Regions from separate parts of the Homo sapiens genome. Here region 1 is linked to region 2. The links come from fine-mapping of genetic effects on gene expression. A gene starts in region 2. The other region holds a variant in brackets. All regions are shown on one strand. Distances are from middle to middle. Region 1 overlaps SKAP1 (src kinase associated phosphoprotein 1). Region 2 holds the start of SKAP1 (src kinase associated phosphoprotein 1).

Region 1 (2,500 bases), 200 kb after region 2:
AATGTATTTTTCTCCCTTGACTTTGAAATGTTACAATCATCACATCCAGTGTAACTATTTTTAAAAGGCCCAACATCTTTTCAGATGGTTCCTCATGAATTTTATCCTTCAAATTGTGTCTGCCACTCCACCCAAAATCCTGGGCTGGCTTTCCTCTTAAATCAATGGATCATTTCTCAAAGAAAAGCAAGTGTGGTCCCTTGAGCTACATACCAGACTTGTAGGAAAGACAGATCTTCTAGTATTCTCTGGTATATTTGACTATAGGCTCCTGATGAGTAAAGCAGGAGAAAGAGCTATGATTACTGGTCCAAGTACAAGCAAGACTTGCCTCTGGGTGATGTTATTCTGGGAGTGGAATAGCATCATACACTTGCTAAGTTCTCAGCACTGTGAGTTGGAGTTGGGAGGTGAACACCAACATTCTTTGCCATCCTCAGCTTTGCTGCACTACTGAAAGATTTCATGGCATTAAACCTCTCTCATGCTTGTCCTACTTTAACACAATTTCCAGCAGCATCTTGGATATTCTTCTATTGTCCACTTATCAGTTACCTTAGCACAGAATGAAATGACTGTGTCTGCATTCAGAGTTTTGTTGTAGTTGATCTTGTTCTGCAGTTTTCTACTAAATGGAGTCTGTGAGCAACTTTGATGAACTCACTAAAAAAAAAAAAGTGAAAGCTAACTTTTGAGGCTGTTCAAACTTGATAGTTGTCTAGCAAGTTAGGACAATTTGTTACTTTATGGACCTTCAACCATGGTGATGCTGAATGCTCCATGGTCACACATTCTGTGGTGTTCCCTAAGTATACACATTTATGTTCATTTCTCACTTTCTTTGTAGATCTCTGCCACCTCCCTATCTTCAGGTCCCTTTGCTGCTCATTCCCCTTTTATATATCAACAATACCAGATATTCCCCACTTTTCCACATCTCTCTTTTTCCAAATATTGTTCCATTAGTCTTAGAGAACTCCTATTCATCCTTCAAAACCCAGCTCAGTCTTTGTCTCCTCTGTGAAGCCTTCACATATACACACAAGGAAAAACGTAACATTTCTTGAGCTCCTATTAGGATTCTCATGCTAGGAACTAGTTCGATACTTTTACAAATCTTGCCTTGCTTTATCTTCACAAAGCATTTTAAAATACATTGAGATCTCCATTCTCAAAACATAAAACCAAGGCTAAAAGCTTTATGGCAAGCAATTGAAATATCCAGAATTTAAACCAGGGTCTGCATGATTTCAAAACTCATCCTTGTTCTGCCATATCATGCCACCATAAATCTCCTTTATTCATTTTGTATTAATGCATACATTTGTAATTTTGCTTTTTACTC[A/G]TCACATTCTGTGGTTATTTATTTGACTGTCTTTCCTACCAGAAAAAAAAAAGTGCCTTGAAAATAGAATGTATTTCTTATTTATTTTGGTACCCCCACAGATCTCAGAACATTACCTGACATATAACAGATGCTGAATAAAGGTTTCCAGGGTTGGATTGCATCTGATTAAAATTAAGTTGAACTGAACAACATATTACCTTGAATTTCAGAATTTTGCATTTCTGATGATATCTGGGGCTCAGATGCCATTTACCTCATGCCAGATGACACATGGCCTCAGTTTTCTTCACAGGTGTCCATGTCTAGCCCTGTACCAATTTCATCCTAAACAACTGCCCATATTCCCATTAATGTGACATAATCATTAGCATATATAAGTTCCTAGAGAACTGCTTTCTATCTCATGTCTTTATTGTAGTCAATGGAGTATACTCAGTCTTTTAGGAATAATTAAAATATTCTGTGACTCTAATTAAAGTAGTCTGGATATTTTTAAGAAACCTATATTTAAGAACAAGCTGAGGGCTGACATCAAGTTAATTGTGTTATTTTTAGTGGAGCTATCATTGGAGACAGCAGCATGGCACCCAGTGCCTTTTTTTAATCCTCATATCTGAATATAAAATGTTAAATAACCAGCATCTTGAGCTCTTAAGAGGAAAGGCATTAAAGCATAAATAAATAAAGCTGTTATGAAAGCTTAGAAAATTATCTAAATGCACTTGAGTAAGAAGTCATGTACTTATTAAATTGCTAGTTATAGAGATAAATGCCCTTAAACCTTTCACTGCCAAAAAAACCAAACACTCAAACAACTTGGAACTCTTGTCATATAAGCATGGGGGATGCAGAGAGAGAAGCTGTTGGCTTGTATTTCTGCCACTCTAAGTAAACATTTTTTTTTTCTCAAGACACAGTCTTGCTCTGTCACCCAGGCTGGAGTACAATGGCACAATCTCAGCCCATTGCAACCTCTGCCTCCTGGGTTCAAGCAATTCTTCTGCCTCAGCCTCCCTAGTAGTTGGGATTACAGGTGCGAGCCACTATGCCCGGCTAATTTTTTGTATGTTTTTAGTACAGATGGGGTTTCACCATGTTGGCCAGGCTGGTCTCGAACTCCTGACCTCGTGATCCACCCACCTCGACCTCCCA
Region 2 (2,500 bases):
TGGTGTGTTTTTCAGAGCCCATCTCAAACACCACATGCACCTTTAAACACTCACATGCACACTGGCACTTCTTTTTATTTTCTTTCTTTTTTAAGAGACAGGGTCTTGCTCTGTTGCCCAGGCTGGGGTACACTGGGGTGATCATAGTTGGCTGTAACCTCAGATTCCTGGGCTCAAGTGATCCTCCTGCTTCAGCCTCCCAAAGTGCTGTGATTACAGGTGTGAGCCACAATGCCTGGCCTCTTCCCTCCTTTTCTGGTATTCAGCTCCCTTCTTTTATCAACCATAGCACTTTATACTTTTTTCATGGCAGTTGACCTATTGTACTTAAAAAACCTCTTTATTTTGAGAATTATAGATTCACAGAGAGTTTCAGAAATAATAGAGGAACTCTGTCTACCTTTACCCAGTTTCCCCCAAGGGTAACATCTGGCACTATTACAGTACCATGTCACAACCAGGACACTGACACCAACTGTCCCTTGAATGAGACCGTGTGATTTTGTCCTTCACTTTCCTCCCTTCCGCAGCTCCTGGAGGGAAAGGGCTCTGTTCTCCTCTCCCTCAGCTTTCTCCCTGTGTTACCCCTTCCTTTCCTCAGGGCCTTTCCATCCTGAGGGAGAACAGCACAGTTTGGTTTCCTGTGTCCCTTGCTGCCACGCTGCCGCGATTCTCCCAAATGTTGGTGTCCTTATATTGCTTATTGGGAATTAATCATTTCCTTTCAACATTGTGGCTTCCCAAAGAGCGAAGTTTTGCCCTCTTTTCTGGGGATGGAGATGTGAACTGGACCGGCAATTGAGGGGTGCTATGCTTGACGGGGATCTCTTCCTTGGATTCTGCCTCCCTGCACCCTACTTCAGGCACCCCGTGGTCTTTCAAATCTGCCACCGTGAGGTCAACTGTTCGGTGCTTAGGATGGAGTGTCCAAAGCCGTGGGTCCTTTGAGCCTTGTGAAGTCTTTTGTTTTGGTGGGTGCTGGAGGGGCGCACCTTTGGCCTCGCACGGTGCGGTGCTTCCGGCACCCCCAATCCTTCTACCGTGGGGCTCCGGCGTGAGCGCCACGTGCACCCACGCCCCGCGCCCCGTTCCGGTCCCCGCCTGCCGCCCGCGCCACTTCCTGACGCGCCCGGGGACCCACGGCCCCGCCCCGCGGCCGGGCTGGGCGGGCGGCGACCGCGGCTGAGGTACAGGTGCCTCGCGGTGCAGCCGGGTCGCCTTCCAGCCCGTCCGCCTCCCGACCAGGGCCCGCGCCCCGTCCCGCCTCTCTCCCGCCCAGCCAAATGCAGGCCGCCGCCCTCCCTGAGGAGATCCGTTGGCTCCTGGAAGGTAACGCCCTGGCGCAGGCCCCCTCCAGTGCTGAGCCGAAGGCCGAAAGGGGACACCAGGCCTCCCACGGCCAGGCTTTCTTTACGGCTTCGTCACTCACCTCCTTCTAGAACCTTAAGGCTTCTAGAGCCCTCAACTCCCTAGAGCCAGCTTTCCATCCTCTCACCTCAGGGCCCCTTTCACTCCCTGGAGTCCCACATCTTCTTTTGCCTTGAGGCACCTCCACGCCTCCACTTCACCTCCCCGGCTTCTAAAGTCCTCAGGCCAGGTTCTTGGTCCCCCATGCCACCTTGCCTGGTCTCCGACCTGTCCCTTTCTCCAAAGGACTGCCCTACATCTGTAGGGTTTCCCGTCCCCCTCCTTCCCCAGCCACGACTTCCTCACCTCTCACAGAAGACCCCAAACCTTCCTGCTTAGAGGTCCCCGAGGCTCTCCAGGGGGCTGCGAGGGGCTCATGGGATCCCCATGGGCCAAGGCCAGGTGGTTGACGTGAGTTTTTGTCAGTGCGAAAACCCCAGCCCTCCCTTTATCACCCTGCAGACGTCTAGGGGTCTCACCCACCCCAAGGCAGGCTCATTCTCAGTATGGGATTTCCTCCTTTTCTAGAAGTGCCCCCATTGTGGTGTGTTCACCTTCCAACTCCCATTGTGGTGTGTTCACCTTCCAACTACAGTGTCTAAGCGGTGGTTTAAAGAGTTCCGGCCATCCCCGTCAACACTCAACACACACTGCCAACACTCCAAAGAGATGTCACAAAGAGACGTTGCTAACGGGCAGTTTCATCTGCTGGGTTTCGTGGTGGAAGTCACTTTTACTTGCTTTCCTGTAACTAACCTTCCAGGGAGGACAGAGGCCTGGAATCTGCAGTCGCATAAGGCTCCCAGGAGGAAACTATTCAGAATTAAGCCTTTTGGCATCTAAGTTGACATAGTTGACACATATTTAACAGACGGCCTGCTTTGGGCAGGTCATATTTTTGGCAAGCAGTATTTTTTTTCAGTTTCTCTCAATTTAATTGGTTTTATATCTCCATTACCTTGTTATCTCGGTATAAATGCCTCCTAATCAAATATTTGGCAAGTCCTTTTGGTCTCTGTCTGTAGCACTATTTCCATTCTGGATTGCTTCTATGTAAAAGCTGTCAGCTAGATATTTCTTTTGAGGTGAGGTT

What was found. PIP is the estimated chance that this variant, and not a neighbour inherited with it, causes the effect.
Region 1: its variant is the best candidate, but not a certain one, in a credible set for the expression of SKAP1 in whole blood (INTERVAL, PIP 0.84).

The regions. Positions count from the first base shown.
Region 1 is chr17:48,233,612-48,236,111 of GRCh38, reverse strand. The region is part of intron 4 of SKAP1 (src kinase associated phosphoprotein 1); the gene reads left to right. Among named protein-coding and RNA genes, the nearest start is that of SKAP1-AS2, 59 kb to the left of the region's middle. The variant A/G (reference allele first, on the strand shown) is at 1,346.
Region 2 is chr17:48,428,904-48,431,403 of GRCh38, reverse strand. It overlaps SKAP1 (src kinase associated phosphoprotein 1), which reads left to right and starts at 1,190. Exons shown (of 13, transcript NM_003726.4): 1 at 1,190-1,329. The coding sequence starts at 1,284. RefSeq lists a silencer at 1,017-1,276.